Linked DNA regions of Homo sapiens: regions 1, 3 and 4 are each linked to region 2. Evidence: fine-mapped expression QTL. A gene starts in region 2. Each other region holds a variant in brackets. All regions are shown on one strand. Distances are from middle to middle.

Region 1 (2,757 bases), 200 kb after region 2:
CTCCCTAAGAAAGGAGGGGTGACTCCTCTAATTGTTAAATTTGTAAAGAATAAACTGGGAAGGCCGCATTCAGCCCATCATCTTCCTAAAACCTGCATGGGGAGACCTATGTTTGAAGAACATTGCCTATGATTAAATGGAAAGAGATCCAGAATTGGGAAGCTCTCTTATCTGCAAATGTAAGCAACATGCTTCAACATCAGCTGTCACCAGTAATGAAGTGACATTTTAATCACCTGTCTGCCTCTTTTGTCTTATTTCCTAATTGGCTTAGAATTTGGGTGAGGATGAGGAGTGTCATTTATTGCTATAAGATCCAAACACACATCTACGGGTTTATCCTACAGACATACTTACATATGTATGAAGTTACATGTGTACAAGGTTATTCATTGTAGCACTGTTTATAATACCAAAAGACTGAGAGCAATCTGAATGTCCATAGAGAGGATTATTTAAATAAGACACTGTTGCACAATGGACTACTATGCAGCCAAAAATATTAGTAAGCTCCAAGATATATTAAAAAAACAGAATCACAAAACAAAAGGTACAGAATTGTGAGTATAGTATGCTATAAATTGTGCAAGAAAAAGAAAAATATATAAATATCTGCTAATACCTTCATAGCATATTTCAGAAATAATATATAAGAAATTGGTCAGTTTATTTATTTTATTTTGCCTCCAGGGAAGAAAACTTGGTACGTAGGAGCATTTTCTATTTGATACTCCCTAAAGTCACAGAAATCATGGGTGAGTGCAAATTCAGAGCAGAAATCCTGTGTCTGAAAGTACTATTAAGTACCTGTATCTTTCAAATCTTGTTAGTAGATGGTTACAAATTAATTACTCAATCTTTCTGTCAAATCAAAATGCATTTGTACTTATTTAGCTAAGGTGTAAAGTGAAGTGATTATTATAATTTTACTTTTTTTAAAACTTAATTATGTTTCATTAAATTAGCATATAATTGAGTATCTAAATGAAACTTTCAGATAAATAGAATAAAAACAGAGGTACAAGGAGAGTTGCAGTACATGGCAAGTTTCATCGTGAAAAGTTTTTTATTTGCCTTATTTTCATTTACTCAAAAAAATACTTA[T/A]TGAGAGCCTCCTCTGTGCCTTGCTTTAAAAACTCTGGGAAAATGGGAGCAAGACACTCTCTTTTCTTAGTATGGCCTACTCTAGTAGGGGACACAGATAACAAGTAAACAAGCAGGCCAGGCGCAGTAGCTCACACCTGTGATCCCAGCACTTTGGAAGGCCAAGGCAGGCAGATCACCTGAGGCCAGGAGTTCGAGACCAGCCTGGCCAACATGGTGAAACCCCATGTCTAGTAAAAATACAAAAAAATTATCCAAACATGGTGGCACACACCTGTAGTCCCAGCTACTTGGGAGGCTGAGGCATGAGATCGCCTAAACCCAGGAGGTGGAGGTTGCAGTGAGCCAATATTGTGCCACTACAACTCCAGCCTGGGTGACAGAGGAGACCCTATCTTAAAAAGAAAAAAAAGTAAGCAGTAAGCTAATTTTTTAAGTGATAGTACTAAAAGACAATAACACAGAGCTATGACAATACAGAGTGGCTAAAATGGGAGAGGAGGAAGGATTATTTTTTCCCAGTTGATTTTCGGGGACAGATACAATTTATTAAAGAAGCATGTATGATATGCCCCCCGTGCCTACTCCTGTTGTGGGCACTGGGCATAAAGCAACATAGAAGGTTAAATCTTTGCTCTCAAGAAGCTTAAGACATTCCATTGATACAGACTGACAATAAACAAACAAGCAAATTGATATTTAATATGCAGAGTCAGATTTACTGTGATACCCCAGGGAGGGCTGGTAATTGCTGAGGGCCATAGAATGTTCTAGGTGGCAAGTGGAAGCCAGGTTGCAACAACTACACATTTTTACATAAGCATTTCTAGTAAATTGCCTAAATAAATCCTAGAAGGAAGAACTGAAGCTCCAAGACTCCAGCAATTTATGATTTATTTTCACATTAATATTCACTTTCATACTTAATTTTTATTTATTTTTATTTTTTTATTTTGTTTTTGAGACGGAGGCTTGCTCTCGCCCAGGCTGGAGTACAGTGGCGTGATCTCGGCTCCACTGCAAGCTCCGCCTCCCAGGTTCACGCCATTCTCCTGCCTCAGCCTCCCAAGTAGCTGGGACTACAGGCGCCTGCTACCATGCCTGGCTAATTCACCGTGTTAGCCAGGATGGTCTCGATCTCATGACCTCGTGATCTGCCCGTCTCGGCCTCCCAAAGTGCTGGGATTACAGGCGTGAGCCACCGCGCCCAGCTCATACTTAATTTTTAATTGCAATTTTTATATTTTGTTTCTTTAAAAAATGCCCCCCCATTATAAAAACTTCAGGCCCCACAAAATTTGTATGTTCCCATAATAAGATATCAGGTGGTAACAAGTTTGTTTTTTGTTTTTTGTTTTTTGTTTTTTTTGAGATGGAGTCTCGCTTTGTCCCCAGGCTGGAGTGCAGCGGTGCTATCTCAGCTCACTGCAACCTCCACCTCCCGGGTTCAAGTGATTCTCCTAACTCAGCCTCCCAAATAGCTGGGACTACAGGCGCTCACCACCATGCACAGCTAATTTTTGTGTTTTTAGTAGAGAGGGGGTTTCACCATGTTGGCCAGGATGGCCTCGATCTCTTGACCTCGTGATTCCGCCCACCTCAGCCTCCCAAATTGTTGGGATTACAGGCGTGAGCCACCATGTCTGGCTGGTA
Region 2 (2,500 bases):
ATTTGATCAAAAAATAAATGTCCAGAAAAAGGGGCTTCTTTCTGCACCCCATTTTAAAAGTGTTTTAAATCTGACATTTACATAAAGTTTTCAAATTTACCATAAAAGGAAAAAAAAAGCCCACAAACTCAGAGCTGTCTTTTCGAAAAAGAGGAAAATTGTTTAAAATAAATAATCACCTTCAAAGTTTCTAAAAAGTGTAGGCATTAATTCAGAGCCATATATATTTATACATACATATATATATACTTTTTTTTTTTAATTTTTCAGAAGTATGGTCTCAGGTTTATTTGCTTTCAGGATAATTTCTTGCCCCTTTTTCTTGTGCCCTTAAAGAGCTCAAATAATTCCTTTCTTTAGAAAATAAATAAATAAAAGAAGTCATATAATTTAATCATTACTGGCCTTGGATAGGTTTTAACCAATGAACGACACAATTAAAGCACCAATCAAGAAATACTAAGAAATTAAGTAATGTTTCAAGTCATGCTGAAACAATAAAAGAACTAAAGATAATTATGAAAAAAGAATAATTTGTTTTAAAAATATGCTATAAATGTTTACATTTATAATTGAGAAGTAATGGTTAGAAAAGCAGGGACTAAAGTCATATAATCTAATATTTCTGCAACATGTTACCATTTACAAAGAACGTTTGAAACACATTATCTCATTAAATTCTCTCAGCTAACCTTCCAGGTTGATATTATTTCCATTTTACAGATAAGGCAAAATAGGTTCAAAAAGGTTTAAAAAATCCTTCTAGTACTAGTGAAGCAGGGACTACAACTCAGTTCTTTCCACTTGAACAGCTTCATTACACAAACAAATCAACGCTGTATCACTAAATTCATGTCTCAGACCCCTCTCTACGGCTATGCCAAACAGTCTGTTCACAAGAAAAAACGACGCGACAGTACAGGCTATTTTGTGGCAAGCAGTACAGCATCCTGACCTAAGCTGACCTGGGTCACAAACCTGCACAAGAAAACCCTGCACAAATCAAAGGTATCCTCAAGATACTATATTCATCCACTGAGCTGCTCAAAGTGGAGGCAGCTCAATGGTTAGCATAGAAAGGTGTCGAGTCCCCAGCTTTGCCCCAGCTGAATGACCTTAAGGAAGGAACTTAACTACAGGAAGGGCCTTGGGACCCTAAGGGGTATCTTCTGCGCCGGGCATAAAGGAGAGCTAAACAAATGAGTGAATGAATGGGGTCTCAGCCCTGCCCTAGTCCATCCGCACTTCAGAGAACCCAATATCCCGAAGGAAGCCTCCGTATCTCAACTGAACCCTATGTCCCCAGCCCGAAAACGTGCTGGGTGGGAAAAGAAAAATAGCCGCTGCCACACAGTCCCGACTTGCCAGCAAGGTTTTCCCTCAGCGCGCCGCAAATTTTCTGGAGGATCCTGGGGTTATGAAAGCTCAGAAGTCAGGGTTATTCCTGGTCCCAACACGGAACGAAACAGGCTCGGATGTCTCGCCCAACCCTCATATCTCAGGGTTTATAACCTTTCTTCGAGAGACATGACCTTTCCCATGAGACCTTGCCCCCAAACCAGGAAAAAATGCCCGGCAGGCGCAGCGTGCACTGCGGAAGTCACGCACTACATATCCCAGGGTGGGTCGCGGCGAGGTGGGTGAAATGGACGTCGCTCACGCATTTTGGGGGAATTCTGGGCATTGTAGTTCCTCATTGAGGGAGGCTCTAGCGCAGTACACAGCTTAAGCTGTTGAAGAAGATATAGGTCGTTTAGGTGATTCTCTACTATCTAAGGTTGTTCTCCTAGTCCTTGGAAGTCTACTACTTTTATAATATACACAAAAATATACTTAGGAAAATGAAATTTAAAAATGTAAACATGGAAAAGACACGTACAGATTTTTCTTATTATTTTTTAGCATATACGAAATAACTCTGTCGAGTAACTTTGAAAGTATGCAAACTCATACTCTCAGTTTCTGCACTTATGTCGTGGATAGGTACCAGTTCTCAGACCATATTTTTTTTTTACTTACCATGGTATTTTAATAGTCCCAAGATTTGACACTTGACACTTAAAAAAAAAATACCACTAATAAATAACCAAAGTGGAATGCTTACCAAAGTTACAACAGACATAATTTTCAGCTGATAATCACTACAACAAAGTAAGGCTCTAAAGGTACCAAACTGATATTTGTTGGAATATGCTGTGCAACTTTCTTTTTTTTATTTTATTTATTTATTTTTTTTATTGATCATTCTTGGGTGTTTCTCGCAGAGGGGGATTTGGCAGGGTCGTAGGACAATAGTGGAGGGAAGGTCAGCAGATAAACAAGTGAACAAAGGTCTCTGGTTTTCCTAGGCAGAGGACCCTGCGGCCTTCTGCAGTGTTTGTGTCCCTGAGTACTTGAGATTAGGGAGTGGTGATGACTCTTAAGGAGCATGCTGCCTTCAACCATCTGTTTAACAAAGCACATCTTGCACCGCCCTTAATCCATTTAACCCTGAGTGGAC
Region 3 (2,757 bases), 350 kb after region 2:
GGTGGATCACTTGAGGTCAGGTGTTTGAGACCAGCCTGGGCAACATGGTGAAACCCTGTCTCTACTAAAAATACAAAAATTAGCCGGTGTGGTAATACATGCCTGTAGTCCCAGCTACTCAGGAGGCTGAGGCAGGAGAATTGCTTGAACCCGGGAGGCAGAGGTTGCAGTGAGCTGAGATCGCGCCACCGTACTCCAGTCTGGGGGACAGTGCGAGACTCAAAAAAAGGGTCTGCACCTAGGCTGGGCCTGGTGGTTCACGTCTATAATTCCAATCCTTTGGGAGGCTGAGGCGGGCAGATTGCATGAGCCCAGGAGTTCGAGAGCAGTCTGGGCAACATGGCAAAAACCCTGTCTCTACCAAAAACAGAAATTAGCCAGGCATGGTGGTGTGTGTCTGTAGTCCCAGCTGCTCAGGGGGCCGAGGAGGGAGGATGACTTGAGCCCGGGAGGTGGAGGTTGCAGCGAACTGTGATCGTGCCACCATACTCCACCCTGGGCCACAGAGTGAGACCCTGTCTATTTAAAAAAAAAAAAAAAAAAAGAGTCTGCACTTATCCACTGTGCTTAGTGCCTCAAAGGAAATTGAGGGAGATTCTGACTTAGCTAGTTAGTGTAGAATATGTTACTAAGGCGATTATGGTAATGGAGGGCAAACTTTTTAAAATTTTATTTTTAATTGTGGTAAAATACACAGAAAACATAAAATTCACTATCTTAATCATTTTTAAGTGTATAGTTCAGTAGTGTTATGTGTATTTGTATTGTCGTGCAGCCAATCTCCATAACTTTTTTATCTCATAAAATTGAAACTATACTCATTAAATAGCTACTCCCCATTTCCTCTTCCCCCAGCTTCTGGCAACCACCATTCTACTTTGTATCTCTACGAATTTGGCTGCTCTAAGAACCTCATATAGGTGGAATCATATAGTTACTGTCTTTTTGTGACTGGCTTATTTTACTTAGCATAATATCCCGAAGGTTTATTCATGTTACAGAACATTGTTAGACTTTCCTTTCTTTTTATGGAGGGCAAACTTTTATTTATTAGAACAAATTTTTATAGCCTTTACATATTGAAGAGGATATTATTATCTTACTGGTTTTGAAAAAAATAATTATTTCAGGGATGGTGACATATTTAGACTCCTTATAACCTCTATAATGTAAATTATATACATTAGCATAATTATCTGAATGTCCGGGATAAACATTTTTAACAAGAGAATATTTAATAAGAACTTAAAAAGCATTAAAAACAAACAATACCTTTTCAGTTCTTAACTCATTTGTTTAAGAAGGACAGCTGTGGTGTATTTTTGCCCTGTAGTGATTTTGTGATCCATGGGATTCACAGATTTAAAATACAGTTTTTGTAATATTTACAGGAATGCCTAAGGTCATTCACATATTTTTTATGAAGTTTTGTTATGGAGGCTGGTGCGTTTGGTACTGTTTGGAAGCATCTTATCTAACTGGTGAAGGAATCTAACGATGCCCTGCATTTA[T/C]ACCTCTGTTTAGGGATGTGGTCAGAGTCTTCTTACAGTTTTGAATATGACAGTGGAGTCCAGATTAGCTCCCCAGTTCACTACTTTTGAACTTTAGGAAGTTAGTTAAGTTTTCTAAGTTTGAATTTTGCTACTTGTAGAATGAGAATATTAGTAGCTCCTACCCCATAGCATTCTTCTGAGGATTAAATGTGGTAATGTGAATAAAGTGCTTAGCATGGTGACTGGCACATAGGAAGTGTTCAATGAATGTTATATGTGACTGTTATTACTGTCATGATGTTTGGTATACATGCGTTTGAAGAGTCCCAAATGGTCTACTGTAGCTGGAAATCCATTCCATCCCTTGTTTTAATAATAATTATTTGCTTTAGCTGAATTGAATTTAGGAAATATTAATCTGTACTGGATGCTTCAGAGGATTCAAAGTTGAGTAGAATACAATTTCTGCCTTCAAGAAACTTATACTTAAGTGTTTAAAATGGAAAAATTTTATCTATAGTGATTTTGGAATCTGCATCTTCTAAAATGTTAAGTTTTGAACTAAAAGTATAGGAATAAATCCAGGTGAGAGTATGGTTTAAACATTTTACAACCATCTTAAAATTTCTATAAAATAGTCTTTGACTTGTGCATTTTGTTTGTTTATTCCAGCCAGCACCTAACCAAGTCACTTTTCATCTGCCACTACATCGTTACTATGCTATGTTTTTGAGTAAGGTAAGACTGTCATTAAACAATTCTGTTCTTTTTTTTTTAATTTTCAGAAATAAGAATTGAATTAGTAACTTTTTTATTGTAATTTTTAGGCTGTGAAATGTCAAGAACTAGATTTGGATTCTGTTTTACCAGATCAGGAAATGTTAATGAAACTAATGATTCACCCACTCCAAATTCAAGTATGTATTCAGGCATTTAAAAAGTTTTGAAGTGGATTCCTTGTTTAAGTGATTCTTCCTTTATTTATATGCCTTTCATTGTTATTATAGCTGAGATGTTTGAAAACTTTTTTTAAAAAGTTGTTATTGTATTTTTGCTAGATTATGTTTAGGTATTTTTCATTTTATGAGATTTACTTTTTAGTTTTACTTTTTCCAGGAATTCTTTTCATGATATTTGCTTATGGGGTGGTATTTAACATACTATATAGCACTGTTTTGGGAGTCAGGAGATCCAAAAGATTCTAGCCTTGGTGCTACCACTGTTTTATTTTCCGCAAGGTTTAAGGTAATTCACCTCCTTGATT
Region 4 (2,757 bases), 25 kb after region 2:
CACTGCAACCTCTGCTTCCCGGGTTTAAGCGATTCTCCTGCCTCAGCCTCCTGAGAGTAGCTGGGACTACAGGCATGCGCCATTACGCTCAGCTCACTTTTGTGTTTTTAGTAGAGACAGGATTTCACCATGTTGGCCAGGGTGGTCTTGAACTCCTGACCTCAGGTAATCTGCCCACCTTCGCCTCCCAAAGTGCTGAGATTACAGGCGGGAGCCACCACACCCAGCCCACATATTCTTTATCTGGTAATCTGTTGATAGATACTTAAGTTACTTCCAAATCTTGGATATTGTAAATAGTGCTGCAATAAACATAGGAGTGAAGATATCTCCTTGATATATGATTTCCTTTCTTTTGAGTGTATACCTAGGAGTGGGATATGTTATAATAATTTTTAATAGATAATATATTCATGTGGTATAAAATTGAAAATATGAGGTTATAAAGTGAAAAATCTTAGCCCTCTTTTCCAGTTACCCATTTTCTCTCTCCCTAGATGCCTTTTTGTTAAGCAAATACATACTTGTAAAATTTAATTTAATTTTGTTTTTGGAGATGGTCTGAGGCTGGAGTGCAGTGATGCTACCATAGCTCACTGCAGCCTCAAAATCCTCGGCTGAAAGAGTCCTCCCACCTGATCCTCCTGAGTAGCTAGGACTGCAGGTGCACGTCACCATGCCTGGCCCCACTTTCGTTTTTCTCTCGTTTTTCTTTTTTCCTTTTCTTTTCTTTTTTTTTTTTTTGAGACAGAGTCTCACTCTGTCACCCAGGCTGGAGTGCACTGGTGCAATTTTGGCTCACCACAACCTCCGCATCCTGAGTTCAAGCAATTCTGTGCCTCAACCTCCCGAGTAGCTGGGACTACAGGCGTGCGCCACCACATCCAGCTAATTATTTATATTTTTAGTAAAGACATGGTTTCGCCATGTTGGCCAGGCTGCTCTCAAACTCCTGATCTCAGGTGATCCACTTGCCTTGACCTCCCAAAGTGCTGGGATTACAAGCATGAGCCACCACGCCCAGCTCTCTCTTCTTTTAAAAATATACAAAGACAGTATATCCTACACACTTCTGTACCTTG[CTTGTTTGT/C]TTGTTTGTTTGTTTGTTTGTTTGTTTGTTTGAAATAGAAACAAAGTTCTCCCTATGTTTCCCAGCCTGGTGTTTCAATCCTTCTGCCTCAGCCTTCCTAAGTGCTGGGATTATAAGCATGAGCCACCATGCCTGGGCAACCTTTTTTTTTTTTTTGATACAGGGTCCCACTCTGTCGCCCAATCTGGAGTGCCATGGCACAATCTCAGCTCACTGCAACCTCCGCATCCTGGGCCCAAATGATCCTCCTGCCTCAGCCTCCCAGGTAGCTGGGACTACAGGCATGCATCACTATGCCCAGCTAATTTTTATATTTTCTGTAGAGACGGTTTTGCCATGTTGCCCAGGCTGGTCTCAAACTCCTGGACTCAAGCAATCCACCTGTCTCAGCCTTCTAAAGTGTAAGCCACTGCATCTAGCCTTTTATTTTCTTTTTCTTTTTTTTGGAGAGGTAGTCTTGCTCTGTCGCCCAGGCTGGAGTGCAGTGGCGCGATCTTGGCCCACTGCAAGCTCTGCCTCCCGGGTTCACACCTTTCTCCTGCCTCAGCCTCCTGAGTAGCTGGGACTACAGGCGCCTGCCACCACACCCGGCTAATTTTTTTGTATTTTTAGGGGAGACGGGGTTTCACCGTGTTAGCCAGGATGGTCTCGATCTCCTGACCTTGTGATCCACCCAAAGCGGCCTCCCAAAATGTTGGGATTACAGGCATGAGCCACCGCGCCTGGCTTATTTTCTTTTTCATTTAACAAAATAAGTTAACATTTACAGATTTTAGGAAATAGTTCTCCCTATCTTGGAGACAGCAGTAAATGAACAGATTTCTCATTCTTTCTAATAGCTTTGTACTTTCTACAGGTATACAGTGGTATACCTGATTTATATTTATTAAATTATTTTGTATTATATATCAAATTATATATACATTTATCAAAGTATTATAAATATTTATATTTATATAAATACAGGTAAATATTTATATGTATATAAATACAGGTAAATATATTTATATAAATACAGGTAAATATATTTATGTAAATATAGGTAAATATTTATATTTATATAAATACAGGTTTATATTTCTATAACCTGTTCCTCCTTTATGGACATTTAGGTTTACAGCCTTTTACTACTACAAATTATGGTACATTGAATAACCTTGCACATATCTTATTTTGCGAATGTGTAAGGATGTACATAAAGTAAATTCCTAGAAGTGGAATTACTGAGTCAGAGAGTCTTAAATGCATTTGTAATATGGATATTTGTTGTCAAATTGGCAATCAAGTAATTCTATCAGTTTATCCCTTTACCAGCAGCAACAATAAATGAGGTCATTTTTTATTTTTGTCAATCCAATTGGTGAAAAAATGTTACGTTTGTAATTTTAATATGTAAGATTATGATTTCTCATAGATAGTATTTCATTTCATGGGGGTATTTTTTAAGTAATTCTTACTACTGTACAATTATCTTTTTTCATGTGGCATTTAACACATTTTTTCATGTTATTTTAAAAAGCTTATTTTCTTAGGCAGTCCATCACAAACTAATTTACTTAACTATTGTGTTAGACATTTAAGTTGTTTGTGCTTACTGTTATTTAAAAAAAAACCCAAGGACTATTTTATTTTAAATGGTTGCCTTTACAGATATTCCAGTACATAGA

Alleles and levels. Positions count from the first base shown, and alleles are read on the strand shown. Sizes are in standard deviations (SD) of each study's normalised expression. Not every link is listed here.
With allele C in place of T in region 3, the expression in monocytes after LPS of the gene that starts at base 1,562 in region 2 is lower (large effect, 1.5 SD a copy in Fairfax 2014).

What was found. PIP is the estimated chance that this variant, and not a neighbour inherited with it, causes the effect.
Region 1: its variant is fine-mapped to the expression of FASTKD1 in blood mononuclear cells (TOPMed, PIP 0.96).
Region 3: its variant is fine-mapped to the expression of FASTKD1 in monocytes after LPS (Fairfax 2014, PIP 0.95).
Region 4: its variant is fine-mapped to the expression of FASTKD1 in CD8 T cells (CEDAR, PIP 0.95). The same link has a PIP of 0.9 or more in iPS cells.

What each region holds. Positions count from the first base shown.
Region 1 is chr2:169,772,630-169,775,386 of GRCh38, forward strand. No RefSeq gene overlaps it. Among named protein-coding and RNA genes, the nearest start is that of SSB, 25 kb to the right of the region's middle. The variant T/A (reference allele first, on the strand shown) is at 1,105.
Region 2 is chr2:169,572,304-169,574,803 of GRCh38, forward strand. It overlaps FASTKD1 (FAST kinase domains 1), which reads right to left and starts at 1,562. Exons shown (of 15, transcript NM_024622.6): 1 at 1,366-1,562. RefSeq lists enhancers at 1,144-1,313, 1,169-1,771, 1,674-1,773.
Region 3 is chr2:169,921,764-169,924,520 of GRCh38, forward strand. It overlaps UBR3 (ubiquitin protein ligase E3 component n-recognin 3), which reads left to right. Exons shown (of 39, transcript NM_172070.4): 12 at 2,166-2,231; 13 at 2,321-2,410. Among named protein-coding and RNA genes, the nearest start is that of UBR3, 96 kb to the left of the region's middle. The variant T/C (reference allele first, on the strand shown) is at 1,512.
Region 4 is chr2:169,596,773-169,599,529 of GRCh38, forward strand. All of the region lies in intron 1 of PPIG (peptidylprolyl isomerase G), which reads left to right. Among named protein-coding and RNA genes, the nearest start is that of PPIG, 14 kb to the left of the region's middle. The variant CTTGTTTGT/C (reference allele first, on the strand shown) is at 1,083.